Homo sapiens: one gene and its partner. The protein of the gene in region 1 interacts with the protein of each later gene in a pairwise test. Each region holds a gene or a part of one and is shown on either strand. Other genes may lie near its edges.

Region 1 (3,072 bases):
ATCCTCAAGGCTCTCCCCACTAGAGGCCTGTGCGCACAGCTTCTTTGATGAACTGCGATGTCTGGGAACCCAGCTGCCTAACAACCGCCCACTTCCCCCTCTCTTCAACTTCAGTGCTGGTGGTGAGGGCATAGCCTGGGATCTGGGGAGTGGGGCGGGGTAGGGGGGCAGCCAAAGATTGTGAGGAGCTTGGTGTTGAAGCAGGAGTGGGGAGCTAAGGGCAGGGTACAAGGCAGGCCTGGGGCTCAGGAAAGATGACTCCCAGATTCAGGGGGAATCGAACCTGCTTCAGTTGTGCTTTACTGTGATCTGCCTTGTGCTAAGCTTTTTCTGGTTTTTCATTGAGAGAGGTCTGTGGCTGAAGGTGTCCACAAACAACTGGCCTTCCCAATAGCTGGGTTCCCATTTGGTGCCCATCATAACCCTGCTGTAGTCTACCCTGACTAGCATGTCAATTCCTGTTTCTAGAACTCTCCATCCAACCGTCTCTCAACGCCATTCTCATCCCTCCTCACTTGAGGTCCCCAGCGGGCACTACCACCCTCACCCCGTCCTCACAAGGTAAGTGGGGACCATCTGCTGGGGGTTAAAGTATCTCTCAGCCTGGAGAGGGTGGGGCTGTTCGCTCAGTGACTGGGTTTCCTGAATGTATTTTTAAATCATCGACATTTTGATGGCATAGGAAACACATCTTACAACATGTGAATGACCACCTTTAGAGGGTATTCTTGCGTACAAATGTTTAAATGTGTTTAATGCCAATGGGAAAGCCAGAGAAATAACGTCTGGCCTGAACACAAACAAAAAGTTGAATTCGTTGCCCAAGTTTGTTTTTTTTTTTTTTGTGCAATAGAGTTTCACTCGCCACCCAGGCTGCAGTGCAGTGGCTCGATCTCGGCTCACTGCAATCTCCGCCTCCTGGGCTCAGGCAATTCTCCTGCCTCAGCCTCCGAGTAGCTGGGATTACAGACACACACCACTACGCCTGGCTAATTTTTGTATTTTTACTAGAGATGAGGTTTCACCATGTTGGCCAGACTGGTCTTGAACTTCAGGTGATTTTCCCGCTTGGCCTCCTAAAGTGTTGGGATTACAGGCGTGAACCGCTGTGCCTGGCCATGGTGTCCACGTTTAAAAATGGGGCTATTTTATGTAAAAATTCAGATTTCCTGTTTCTCTTGGGGAAGAAAATCAGATTGGGCAGCAATGGGCCCGCCCATCCTACTGACAGTAGACAGTGGGCGCCCTTTATATTTTTTAGACGGAGTCTTTTTCTGTCACCCAGGCTGGAGTGCAGTGGCACAATCCCGGCTCACTCCAACTTCTGCCTCCTGGGTTCAAGTGATTCTCCTGCCTCAGCCTCCTAAGTACCTGGGATTACACGCTCATACCACCATGCCTGGCTTATTTTTGTATTTTGAGTAGACATGGAGTTTCACCATGTTGGCCAGGCTGGTCTCGAACTGCTGACCTTGTGATCTGCCCACCTCAGCCTCCCAAAGTGCTGGGATTACAGGCGTGAGCCACTGTGCCCAGCCCAGCCACCGCCTTATATGGAGCCTGGCACTCTGGTGTGTCACTCAGTTACTATCGTGGCCCTTTAGCACTTGAGTTTGCAACCCTTCACCTAAAGTAACAGCTTGTAACTTTTAATGTAGCATCTATGACAAGAGAATTCCTACTTTTGGGTTGGGCGAAGGGGTGTCTGAAAGGCAAAGGCTAACTCTGCTCCTTCCCTGCCTCCCTCCAGCTTTAACTGAGACTCCGACCAGCTCAGACTGGCAGTCGACCGATGCCACACCTACCCTCACTAACTCCTCCTGAGGGCCCCACCAAGCACCCTTCCACTTCCATCTGGGAGCCCCAAGAGGGGCTGGGAAGGGGGGCCATAGCCCATCAAGCTCCTGCCCTGGCTGGGCCCCTAGACTAGAGGGCAGAGGTAAATGAGTCCCTGTCCCCACCTCCAGTCCCTCCCTCACCAGCCTCACCCCTGTGGTGGGCTTTTTAAGAGGATTTTAACTGGTTGTGGGGAGGGAAGAGAAGGACAGGGTGTTGGGGGGATGAGGACCTCCTACCCCCTTGGCCCCCTCCCCTCCCCCAGACCTCCACCTCCTCCAGACCCCCTCCCCTCCTGTGTCCCTTGTAAATAGAACCAGCCCAGCCCGTCTCCTCTTCCCTTCCCTGGCCCCCGGGTGTAAATAGATTGTTATAATTTTTTTCTTAAAGAAAACGTCGATTCGCACCGTCCAACCTGGCCCCGCCCCTCCTACAGCTGTAACTCCCCTCCTGTCCTCTGCCCCCAAGGTCTACTCCCTCCTCACCCCACCCTGGAGGGCCAGGGGAGTGGAGAGAGCTCCTGATGTCTTAGTTTCCACAGTAAGGTTTGCCTGTGTACAGACCTCCGTTCAATAAATTATTGGCATGAAAACCTGCTTTCTGTCCGGCTGCCTGTTTCCGCTGAGGTGGTGGGGGCTTCCGGTGGGGGGACTGTTCTGGGACGGGAGTGAGCTGCATCTCAGGCAGAGGGCTGTCCGAAGGCCCTGGCTCAGGTGCCCAACCTTCTCACACCGTGGCTTTCTCTGCACGTGTGGTGATGAGCTCCATCTGGGTTATCTGCTGTAGAGGCCTAGGAGGAGCCTGCTCCATGACCCAGCATAAATCATCTGCTTCTGCTTAGGGAGGGAGGGATTAACCTCCCAGTAACTGGTGAGCCAACTGGGGATCAGAGAGGGGAAGGCCATGGAGCTTAAGTGACAGAAGAGTCAGGACTTGAACAATGGGCCGTCTGTCTTAGCCCAAGCTGCCTGCTGCTCTAGGGTCTGGGGGGACATGAGATGATGAGGAGTCACTCAGGCCAAAACTTAGCCTGCTTGTAGACTCTTTGTTGGGTGGCCATGGCTGGAGATGGAACCCTAGAAGATTCCAAGCCTTCATTTCCAAGTCTTAAACAGGACACCTACCTGGTCCACCTCTTAGGGATGTTGGGAAGTGACAACCCTGTGAAGGTGGGGACAGAGAACTTGACTTTTATCCTCACTTAAAACATGCTGGGGCCAGATAGTGGGGCATGGG
Region 2 (3,241 bases), on another chromosome or scaffold:
ACAGTCTTTTTTTCAACACTTTTATTAACAAAAGTAAACATGGACAGAACACACTGCCATTTCTGGGAAGAGTAAAGATGATAAAAAATAATTTTAATGGTTCTTAATGTGGAAATTCACAACATACTCAACTTTTGGGTTTTGTTCTCACAGTATTTTTCACAAAAAAAGGGTAAACTTATTCTATTGACAGACATGGTGTACTGATCAGAAATGTTCAGTTTTAACTAAAACTAAATTTATGTTATTTGGCTAAATGTTATGATGCAGTCTAGTACGAGTATTGCATCTAATTCCAGGAGCATTGTTTTAAGTTGATTGACTAGTTATTATGTACATTTCAGAATGTACACATAAATACTGTGATGAAAATCATGTGATTGGGATCTACTGTGATGTTGTCTTCAAAGGCAGGAGAAAATAATGTTCACAATAAAATGTGCTAACAATGTTTTGTTTCTATCAGCTGTTGCAATGCTGATATATTTCTAGTTCAGTGAAATAATTTGTAGTAACCTTACTCTGAGGTTTTACGGTCTGATAATGAAGCACTTGCATGAGTATAGTAAGTCATGTTTTTTTGTTCAAATTTAAAAGCCCTGCTAATTGCATGACACACCACATAGAATGTATACTAGCAGATACTATCCAGTGAAGCATAAATTAGAATTTAATTTGATGTTCAAAAACAGTTCCATTTTTAAGGGTTAAGGTGGTATTTTCAAGAAAAGGCAGAACAAATAATGCAAAATTCTCAGTAATAGTGATACATGGATATACTTCCTTTTAAATTCTCAGCTGCAAAATAATTGTAGACAAAATAATGGCATTTAACTAAAGATGGAGCATGATCTAAGTACATAGCACATGTGAATAAAAGAAAAGCTGACAGTATATTCTGGTTTCAATAAAATGACCTATCAGAAAGTAGAATTTCATCCCCAAGAGTATTTCAGTTTATCCAATATTGAGTAAGTTCTGAAACAGTTTTAGAAAAAATTTTCTTTTTGTTAAATGTGATGCACTGATCAATTTTTGTCACAGCATTTTCATACCTTCATGGTGGACTACTAGTCACTGCTTCCATAAATATTGTTTACAGGGTGAGATTTGGTTTATTCATCTTAAGTGCTGTAGCAAACTGTGGTTCGAGCAACCTGTGGGAAATCTGTGAGAGGGAATGGGGTGGGAGATGTGGGGGAATGGTGGTCAGACTGATGACAGATCCTAGACCAATGTAAAGAATGTGTATCTGTATATAAATAATTTATCAAATAGTTTTCTCTTTGTGTCTGTGTTAGTGTTTTTAAAGCTGCTCATTTCATTTTGTCCAACCAAAAAGAAAAGGGAGATAACTAATGAGCTTCTAGTGATGTTCAAAATTGCTGTTAATAGGCATTATACCCTGCAAGTTCACTGCATGTCTGATGCTTGGTAAAACTAGTCTTCCCTGTAAAATGCAGATTACAGGTATTAAAGCAATCTAGTGGTATACCCGCCCCTTGCCTTAGTAAGAGGAGCAGTGAAATGTATATAGTTGATGTTCAGTATTTCCAAGTACCATTTTTATATAGTAGCTTATTTGACCATAAGTCACACATCAAAAAAAGATTACCCTTAGTGTATGTGTTTTAATATTAGAAAATTGGCATATGTACTTTATTTTTGAAAAGGGAAGAGATGGGTGTGGGGTGGCAATAGCATTGTGCCATTTTGTCATAGAATGTAAAAATTGGTTAACTTTACAAATGTCAGCTAGTTTTGACTACTAATTGGGGGAAATTTTAGATAATTTTTAAATTCAAAGTTATTTATAAAATGCTAGAATTTGTTTTAATTTTTTGTATTTTGAGCCACTTCACATGAAGACTCAGTTGCATTTTTATCGAATACATTTTTATCAACAGTTAAAGACTATGGTGGTTTTTTCAGAGTTTGGCTAAGAATGTTGTTACCATCTTCTTTGTTTGTGGTACAATATTTTCAGTGCAAAAGAGATGTCATTCAGTTAAAAAGACAAACCTCTAGATGTGTAATTACATGGAAAATACTAGCAATGTGAATGCTTTTGTAGTAACCATCTTGTAGTACCTGTGAAATCTATAACTCAGAAATGGTCAGATGGTCAGGAGCCAGCTATGCAGCAGTATACCATCTGTTTAATTATTTTGTAGGTCCTGTGTGTGGAACCAACTATAAACCCAGTTCTAAAGTTGTGTATGATGGTGAACCTTTGGGAATAGTTCTTATCAACTTAATTGGATACTTTTAGCAAATAGGAACTTAATTCTCAGCACTGAACATGAATTACTTCCTTGGAGTTTTTTTTCATTCATATTTTTGTTGTTTCCAGGAATTTATTTGATATTAATGGGCGTAAAACAGCATCATTGTACTTAAGCTATGGATGTTTTTATTTTATATTTTCTTTATTTATAACTGTGCCAAGTATTATTTTGCTACTTACCGTGTTATTCTGTGGAAAGAAAAACCTGTAAAGTGTTTAATAAATTAGCCCTCCTTACATAAATTAAATGTCAAAATTTTGTAAAATATTAATCAGAATAAATACTGACTCTTAAGTGTGTGCTTATGATTTCACTCAATTTACTTCAGGAAATTGATGAAATGATAGTGGTACCTATGATATGAAAAGATTATACATTTATATCCTGGTTAACTAGGAGTCAAGTGGCATAAGACTGTAGGAATTTGGAAAAATAAAAGATGGTGTTAGTATTCTAAAAAAAAAAAAAAATTTCCAATCCTGTGTGTATGCATGTGTGTGTGTGTGTAATTTTTTTTTAAATAAAGATAATAAATTTTTTAAGAATTTTTGAATTCCATGTAGTTAATTAGGATCCTCAGGGACTGTATGAATCTCCAAGTTTTAAATATGTCTAAAGATACTAAAGAAAAATATTGCAAAATGTACTATATAAAGAAAAATACTGCAGAATGAAACCTACCAAACGTTGATCTCAGTTACTTGAGAAGATATGCGTGGCAGAGAGAACTTCTTTATTTGGGACTTTAAAAGGCAAAAATTATTAAGGAACTGTTTCCTGTTGTTCCAGTGGTTGTTAATGGTTTGAGAACCCAGTGGTATTAAACAGGAATATTTTCAAATTGGACTAATACTCTATCCATAATTTTAGTCTGGAGTTCAAGTAACAATATCTTGAACAACTGTATAAAGTAAAGCCGCTAGTTTTCATTCCACCCAAGTATTTTCCTCCTC

Evidence for each region. The genes of interacting proteins can lie anywhere in the genome.
Region 2: the proteins of GSK3A (region 1) and ZDHHC17 interact in binary tests that used the Homo sapiens proteins (3 or more experiments, as listed by UniProt).

Annotation. Positions count from the first base shown.
Region 1 is NC_000019.10:42,229,546-42,232,617, reverse strand, and holds the end of GSK3A (glycogen synthase kinase-3 alpha), read left to right. Parts: coding exon 1-122; intron 123-468; coding exon 469-561; intron 562-1,750; coding exon 1,751-1,824; 3' UTR 1,825-2,428; downstream 2,429-3,072. UniProt on the Homo sapiens protein: Constitutively active protein kinase that acts as a negative regulator in the hormonal control of glucose homeostasis, Wnt signaling and regulation of transcription factors and microtubules, by phosphorylating and inactivating glycogen synthase (GYS1 or GYS2), CTNNB1/beta-catenin, APC and AXIN1.
Region 2 is NC_000012.12:76,851,115-76,854,355, forward strand, and holds the end of ZDHHC17 (palmitoyltransferase ZDHHC17), read left to right. Parts: 3' UTR 1-2,582; downstream 2,583-3,241. UniProt on the Homo sapiens protein: Palmitoyltransferase that catalyzes the addition of palmitate onto various protein substrates and is involved in a variety of cellular processes.